Regions from separate parts of the Homo sapiens genome. Here region 2 is linked to region 1. Evidence: fine-mapped expression QTL. A gene starts in region 1. The other region holds a variant in brackets. All regions are shown on one strand. Distances are between the middles of the regions.

What was found. PIP is the estimated chance that this variant, and not a neighbour inherited with it, causes the effect. A credible set is the group of variants that fine-mapping cannot tell apart.
Region 2: its variant is the best candidate, but not a certain one, in a credible set for the expression of GFPT1 in whole blood (INTERVAL, PIP 0.73).

The regions. Positions count from the first base shown.
Region 1 is chr2:69,384,628-69,389,020 of GRCh38, reverse strand. GFPT1 (glutamine--fructose-6-phosphate transaminase 1) reads left to right here and starts at 1,794. Exons shown (of 20, transcript NM_001244710.2): 1 at 1,794-1,956. The coding sequence starts at 1,950. RefSeq lists silencers at 1,375-1,484, 1,545-2,214 and an enhancer at 1,443-2,002.
Region 2 is chr2:69,363,979-69,368,371 of GRCh38, reverse strand. The region is part of intron 3 of GFPT1 (glutamine--fructose-6-phosphate transaminase 1); the gene reads left to right. Among named protein-coding and RNA genes, the nearest start is that of GFPT1, 21 kb to the left of the region's middle. The variant G/A (reference allele first, on the strand shown) is at 2,190.

The DNA.
Region 1 (4,393 bases):
CAGTGCACAAAGATGTTGCTTAAGCATTGGAACCATACCTTGGCTTTTAGGTAATACAACGGAGTTCTAACCAGAGCCTTAGATGAGGGTTCTGAGGCTAGATGTATATCCACAGTCTTTTGTTTCTTGAATTAAGAAATGTATTATTACCAAAAAGCTCACTGTTTTTTTTTTTTTTAAACTTTGCTCTGGGTGATCCAGGGACCTGTTTAAGGGATTGAAATATCAAAAGGGCTTTTAGGTGAGAAATACTCTGCTTAGTTAAATGTGACATTTTTCAGCTTCTCTGAGGCAAGTGAAAAAAGGCACTTTTCCCCGTAAGAAGAACTGAAAGCCTTATGCTCACTTAATCATATAACCAGCCATAGAAGGTTAATTCCGCTAAGAAAATAGGACTTTTTTTCACTCATTCCAAAATAAATTTGATCTTTTACTTTGTGCTGTGGTCTAAAAGTGTTGGGTATGTAAAATCTAGTTCTAGCTTCAAGAAACTTACAGCCCAGTGGGAAAATACAGAAAATCATAAAATATCAAAGAATATTTCTTTACAGTGAGTAGCTCAAAGAGTAAGAGGTTAATGCATGTCTCCAAGTCTGTCTAGGGGGGATAAAAAAGGCTTTCCTGAAGAGGTAGCATCTAAACAGAGACGTGGTGGGGATTCTATGCAGAGTAACCAAAGTGTGCAAAAGATTTGAGAATCTTGGCCCAGTTGAGGAACTACCTGTTGAGCCTGTTGGGAGTGTATAGGGCTGGAAGGACGGCTAAGACCAGACACATGAACAGCAGTCAGCAGGCTAAGACCAGACACATGAACAGCAGTCAGCACTCCAGGAATTCTGTGTGCCATGTACGTTTTTGATACTACTCTACTCTAGAGCCATTATAGAGTTCTGATTACTCCACATTTGACTAAAGATACCATTTAAGGCTGTTTAAAGCAAATGCCCAGGTAATAAATTCTCAGAAACATCATCCCTCTCTAATCAAGTCTCTCTTGTCAGACATGGCGCATTAATTCATAGAATGAATCGTTCGTAAGTCAAACGCGCGGCTGTTAAAGCTAGGGAATTCCTAGCCGTCTCAGGTGGGTCATGGGAGGAGGTGGGCCAGCAGTTTCTTACGTCCAGGCTCATAGTCGGATAGTTGAGCCTTACATTCCTCCTCTACCCCTCCACAATAAACTGAGGGTTATGGAGGCAACGGATGCGGAGGGCTTTTAGGGGCCAAGCATATTACACAAGGAATTGAATTGCTTATTACCAGAGAGGCTGACCTTTGGGGCTTTACAGTCAAGAATTTTGTTATCTCTCTCCTCCCACCTCAACCTAATTCTTTGCAATTTTTTTCAGCCTTATGTTCCCCAGGATTCCCTTTTCATACTTCCTGCTTTTTTCCTCCTCTTTCCTCGCTTCGTGCAGTGCTGGCGCCTGGGGCCTGGGGCTGCACGGGGCACGCACCCGGGCTATTGCTTTGCTAACAATTCCATCCTTCTCTTTCCGTCATTCCCTGCCAGGTGCTGAGTTTCTCCCTCCCTCTCGGCTCGGTCCCTCCCGCGGCTCGCCCCGGGGCGGGCGTCTCCAGGAACTCCAGGCGGACGCGGCCACGAGCCACTGCCACGTCGCCGCCGCCAGCAGTCCAGCGCCTGCGTGGGCTCGGGGGGCGGGGCAGCGCTGGGAGGCGGGACTTGCGCGTGAGCGGCGCGTGAGCGGTTCAATGGAGCCTACGGGCGGCGGCGCGCTGCGCGCCGAGGGGCGGGGCCCGGCGGCGGTTGCTGGCGGAGCCCGGGAGGCGGAGAAGGCTGTCGTTGCCTTGGCCGTCGCATCCCCGAGGGAGTCGTGTCGGCGCCACCCCGGCCCCCGAGCCCGCAGATTGCCCACCGAAGCTCGTGTGTGCACCCCCGATCCCGCCAGCCACTCGCCCCTGGCCTCGCGGGCCGTGTCTCCGGCATCATGTGTGGTAAGGGGGCCGGGAGCGGGGGGCGTGTTGCCGGGTGGCGCTGGGGTGCGGTGCGGGTGCCGCTAAGGCCCAAGGCGACGGGCGGAAGCGGGAGTGTGGAGGGTGCGAAGTCTGGGTGATGGGCAAGGGGCGCCCAGTGGTGGCTGCGGGGGCGGGGGCCGGCATCCACGGGCGGGAGAGGGGGTGGCGGCCGGGAGAAAGGCACCTGAGAGGAAGGCGGGCCCCCTTTGCCGGGGGCTAGCGGGCGCCTTGGCGCGGAGAAGGAACCGAAAGGGGAGAGAAACGCCTTTATTGAAAAAGGAGGAGAGAGCTGAGGGAATTGAGGTGTGGAGGGGGTTGCCTTCAAAAGGGCCCACCAGGTGAGTGAGGAAACCTGTGGAACCTCGGGCGAGGTCTCTTGAACTTACCTTGCATTTTTCTAAAAATCTTTAAAAAAATATTTTACTTGTTTCTGGGGAGGCCCAATAGAAAACAGACCCTAGCTAGAGCCACGGTAGTGCCATTAAACGTGATACTTCCTGCCATCCCTTGTCTCAACAGAAACCATTGCTAATCAATAACTTGGTTCATGGGCTTAGACCTGATCCTCTGGTGGAAGAGGCCTTCAAATGTCTGTGGCGATAGGTTATACATAATTTATCATTTGCGTGTGCACCCATTAAAAATGCCAGCTCTGAAAAATATCAGTTATACCTTGGATGTATACCCCTTTAGAATACCAACTATGAAAAATATCATTTATCCCTTGCATGTGCATCCATTAAAAATACTAGCTATGGAAAGTTGAGCAAATATCTTTCCTAGAGCCTTAAAAAATTAAGGTTAGGCCCTTTTATTCCATGTTTTGAGAGTCGTTTATTATGACCTAAGTGTTAGTGAAAGAGACTTTGAGAATCGTGTCTGACATGACTGATATCTTCTAAAATTGGTGTTAATTTGGCTATTGCCAGTAAAAATAATTGTATTCTTACCTTTCTTATTGAAATTTACAACCGACTTTATCCCTGGAAGAAAGTACACTTTTTTTTTTTTTTTTTAAAGGGAAGTACCATTGTAAGAGAATTGAAAACTCTCTGGGAGACTTCTTATTTGCAGCCTTTTACACGAAGGAACTGAACAGGAGGTGGATTGTACTCGTTAGTGTATATATTTCCTGTATTTAACTTTATGCTCATTTCAGCTTCTGAAAATGAGGAGCAGGTTTAAATTTAGAGTAGATTAAAAAAAAACCCACATAAAAACAGAAACACCTATAAATAGCTTACTGAAATTATTAGAGTAGAGCTGACTTCAGAATCAGACTTTTGCAGTGTCTACTTAGTAGAATGGTTTTGCATTTAGTTTGGAGCTGTGAAGTAGTGAATTTGCAAACTGGTCAATCTCCAGTGTGCTTCATTTGGTAGTTAACTGTTCCTGAATGATGAGGGGTGTGCCTCATCAAGTACTCAACATTCTGGTTGCAGGTCATTTCATCATGTTCCAAGAAAAAAACGTAGTCAAAGTACTTACTGAAAAAAAAATAAATAAATAAATAAATCAGCGCTGGGCGTGGTGGCTCCCGCCTATAATCTCAGCACTTTGGGAGGCCGAGGCAGGTGGATCACCTGAGCTCAGGAGTTCAAGACTAGCCTGGCCAACGTGGTGAAACTCCATGTCTACTAAAAATACAAAATTAGCTGGGCGTGGTGGTACGCGCCTGTAATCCCAGCTACTCGGGAGGCTGAGGCAGGAGAATTGCTTGAACCCAGGAGGTGGAGGTTGCAGTGAGCCGGGATCGCGCCATTGTAATCCAGCCTGGGTAAAAAAGAGCAAAACTCCATCTCAAAAATGATAAATAAATATAAATAAATAAATCAGATATGGAAATCAGGTTCAGATAAGGGAGATACCTTTAGGGTGGAGACTAAATGTTGGGAGTTTTCACATAGTTTGTGTCTCCATTCCATAGAGTTTTACGGCTGAGGAAACAGGTATTGAAGAAATAAAAAGTGAATATTTGAGGCATTTCTGAGGTCCTGCTTTTAAGTCATACCACGGTTTTGCCTGATTCTAGGGATAGGGTTCAGAATTTATTTTCTCTCTAATGTAAATTCTGAAAGATAAGAAGATGAGTGTCATTATTTTCCTCCCACATCTTAGTCATTGAACTAAAATTCCTGAGCAGAGAAATGGAGTGAAAATTAGACTAGATGGGAAAATCTGGAAGCTTACTTTCTGATTACTTGCTATCTAGTTAAGTTTTTCTCTTTCTTTCCTTCTTTCTTTTCTTTTCTTTCTTTCTTTCTTTTTCTTTCTTTCTTCTTTCTCTCTCTTTCTTTCTTTCTCTTCTTTCTTTTCTTTCTTTCTTTTTTCTTTTTTTTTTTTTTTTTTTGTGACGGGGCCTCTCTCTGTCGCCCAGGCTGGAGTGCAGCGGCATGATCTTGGCTCACTGCAGCCT
Region 2 (4,393 bases), 21 kb after region 1:
CTTGGTCTGTTGCACAGGCTGGAGTGTAGTGACACAATCTCGGTTCACTGCAACCTCTGCTTCCTGGTTCACGCCATTCTCCTGCCTCAGCCTCCTGAGTAGCTGGGACCACAGGCGCCCGCCACAACGCCTGGCTAATTATTTCGTATTTTTAGTAGAGATGGGGTTTCACCATGTTAGCCAGGATAGTCTCGATCTCCTGACCTCGTGATCTGCCCGCCTTGGCCTCCCAAGTGCTGGGATTGCAGGCGTGAGCCACCACACCTTGCTAATTTTTGTATTTTTAGTAGAGACGGGGTTTTGCCATGTTGGCCAGGCTGGTCTTGAACTCCTGACCTCAGGCGATCCACCCTCTTTGACCTCCCAAAGTGCTAGAATTACAGGCTTGAACCACTGCACCTGGCCAACCCCTAGCTAATCTTACCCTGCAATACATGCAAAATAAGTATTGATTGAATTTATTATCTACAAATGGAAACTTGTAGATATTGCTGGTGAATTTGTAACTGGTAAATCACTTTAAAGAGCAATCTGGCCATATCTACATGGGAAATGCCTATAACCTGAGACTAAGCACTTCCACTCTTGGATATATACTTGAAGGAAACACAGTGAACAAGGTGACATGACAACAAGATTCACTGTTGCAAAATTTAGAAACAGCCTAAATGTCTATAAGTAAGGGAATGGGATGATATAATAAGTTGTGTGTGCCGGGCGTGGTGGCTCACGCTTGTAATCCTGGCACTTTGGGAGGCCGAGGTGGGCGGATTGCCTGAGCTCTGGTGTTTGAGACCAGCCTGGGCAACATGGTGAAACCCCATCTCTACTAAAATACAAAAAATTAGCCGGGTGTGGCGGCGTGCACCTGTAGTTCCAGCTATTCGGGAGGCTGAGGCAGGAGAATCACTTGAATCCAGGAGGCGGAGGTTGCAGTGAGCTGAGATCGTGCCACTGCACTCCAGCCTGGGTGACAGAGTGAGACTCCGTCTCCACAAAACAACAACAACAACAACAACAACAACAAAAAATAAGTTGTATATGATAGTGAATGAGCATATGTAGCTTTTGAAAGAAGTGTACTGAATCTGGTTCTGCATATGGGAACATGGATAATTCCTGGTATGTAAAGTATAGGACATTTAAAAACACAAAACGGTACTATCATTTATGGTCTCATGTTAACATAATCATAGTTTAAAAGGCATGAATAGTAAGACTGTGTCAACTTGAAAATCTTCTGAGGAGTAAGTGAATGGGATGGGGATATAAAGGAGGTTATCAACTGCATTTTTTACATTTATTTATTTCAAGTTTCCATATACCACACTGATTTTTTACATTTTAGATCTTAAAAAATATGTAAAGCACAGATGACTAGATGTTTTGTTAACTCTGAGTATGGGTAGTTGGGTGTTCATTATTCCCAGCAAATTTAAATATGTTTGAAGTATTTTTTTTGAAAAGGGAAGATGACATCTGAGAAAAGGCAGGCAGAGGGCAAGGAGCCATGGGAGTAGAGGTAGGGTAAGATAGAAGATGCAAATGAGGAAATTATTGAAGCACTACGGCCCAAGAAGATCAAGGCACAGGCAAGGAGTTAGCCTTTAAAGGAAAAAGTGTACTTTAGGAATCAAAGATGAAAGACAAACTTAAAGCAGATAATTACCAGGTGAGAGGACAAAAGCTGAGTAAAGTGGAAATTGAGGGATTGCAGGTAGGATTGAGCTTTATGGAGAATAGAAAAGATATGATGAACTGTCAGGGAACTGGATTGAGCTATCAGTTTAATGAATAAGGAACTTGGATACATGTTTCTTAGGTAGCAACAGTGAAATAGATATGTGAATTTGAAAGGGTCTTAATTTACAGAATTTTCTGACTTTCTTCAGTATTGCTTGGCAGTAGATGGGAGAAGAGAAACCGAGTGTGGGGGTTAATCTAGACTTAAGATTCAGCAAAGGGCTTTAAAATGGGTAACAGACAATAAGGAAGCGTCAAGGATTCAAAGTCATGATTAATTTATATGACAGGAAATATTTATTATGAGAAATGTGCTTATTGTCATAGCAATAATTTTTTCTTACTAGACATTCGGTAATGTTCCTACAGCAACAGTGAAATAAAGGTGTGGTAATTATCATGAATTTGAAATGGATTCAATATATAGAATCTTGTGACTTTCTCCA[G/A]TATTGCCTGCCAGCATGTGCAAGGAGATACTGCTTTAATTATAGTTAGCTTAAAAAAGTTGTCAAAGAGGCCAGGCGTGGTGGCTCACGCCTGTAATCCCAGCACTTTGGGAGGTTGAGGTGGGCGGATCACCTGAGGTCAGGAGTTCGAGACCAGCCTGGCCAACATGGTGAAACCCTGTCTGTACTAAAAATACAAAAAATTAGCCAGGCGTGGTGGTGCGTGCCTGTAATCCCAGCTACTCAGGAGGCTGAGATAGGAGAATCGCTTGAACCCGGGAGGGAGAGGTTGCAGTGAGCCAAGATTGCGCCATTGTACTTACTCCAGCTTGGGCACAAGAGCAAAACTCCGTTTCAAAAAAAAAATAAAAAAAGTAGTCAAAGATGTTTTCATTTCTTGCATTGGCCTGTTGAATAATGGTAAATGGTATTTTTCTTGAGGTCATTTATCAGGTTGCCTTAATTACTTAGAACACAGTTAAGCCAGGAAAGAATAGATGCCTGAGTTTATTCATTGATAGATTGAGCCATCCAACAAAAAGGTATCTGCCATGTATACCTTTTAGTGCTTAGGATTCAAAAATAATAAGGTAGGCTGCTGTTTTTGTAGAACTCAAATTCTGGTGGAAGCTAGGTTGACAACATATAAATGTTATAGTACAATAGAATATACCATTGTGGTTTTATTTATTTATTTATTTACTTATTTTTGAGACGGAGTCTTGCTCTTTCGCCCAGGCTGGAGGGCAGTGGCATGATCTCAGCTCACTGCAGCTTCCCCTTCCTGGGTTCAATTGATTCTCCTACCTCAGCCTCCTGAGTAGCTGGGATTACAGGCGTGTGCTACCACGCCCAGCTAATTTTTTCAGTAGAGACAGGGTTTCACCATGTTGGCCAGGCTGGTCTTAAACTCCTGACCTCTGGTGATCCACCTGCCTCAGCCTCCCAAAGTGCTGGGATTACAGGCATGAGCCGTGGTGCTCGGCCAGTTTGCTCTTAATTTAGACCTAACTCTGATAAACTTTGTTATCTGGGTTCTTAGCCAAATTAATTTTATATTTAGGAAATTAAGAGCATTACTAGTTAATAACTGGAGCTGTCCATTTTTTTAAGAAACCCCAAGAAAAGATAGCTTATATGAAAAATAAGAATCAGCTACTTCTTTTTTTTTTTTTTTTTTTTTTTTTTGAGAGGGAGTCTCGCTCTGTCACCCAGGCTGGAGTGCAGTGATGTGATCTCAGCTCACTGTAACCTCTACCTCCTGGGTTCAAGCGATTCTCCTGCCTCAACCTCCCGAGTAGCTGGGATTACAGGCGCGCACCACCACACCCGGCTAATTTTTGTAGTTTTAGTAGAGACAGGGTTTCACCATGTTGGTAAGGCTGGTCTTGGACTCCTGACCTTGTGTCCCACCCGCCTCTGCCTCCCGAAGTGCTGGGATTACAGGCATGAGCCACCACATCTGGACAAATCAGCTACTTTTCAAGATAAAGGAACATTGGCCTATGCCGATTTCCCAGTAGCCCCATACTTTCATAGCATTGCTCGGTTCTTAAATACCTATTTGATTTTGGAGGCACTCCATAGTTGCAGTTTCTATTGTGAGACGTGTGTACACTCACCAGAGACCAAAGAAATTGCAGTCATAAGGTTGTGTGTCATTGGGAAAATGAATTTATTTTTACATGTTTAATTAAATTGATAATGACTTTTTAAGGCAAGAATTAAATATAGATTTAAAAGATTACATTAATTGTTTTTGTCCTTAACTCTTGAGTATTTGTATCTCCAGGAAACTTGAAAGAATAGTACATTATTACCTATATATACTTCACCTAACTTTATCTGTTATTAAAATTTTGTCATGTTTGCTTTAACTCTGTATTAGTTTTTTGGTTGTTATTGAAACCATTTGCCTTCAATATTTCAGTTGCATAAACTCCTAAATCTTTATTTATCTTTATTTTTAATTTTTGTGGGTATATAGTAGGTGTGTAAACTTACTGGGTACATGAGATGTCTTGATACAGACGTACAATGTGTTCCTAAGTCTTTTTTTTTTTTTTTTGAGATGGAGTCTCGCTCTGTTGCCCAGGCTGGAGTGCAGTGGCATGATCTCAGCTCACTGCAACCTCTGCCTCCTGGGTTCAGGCGAATATCCTGCCTCTGCCTCCGGAGTAGCCAGGACTACAGGCGCGTGCCAC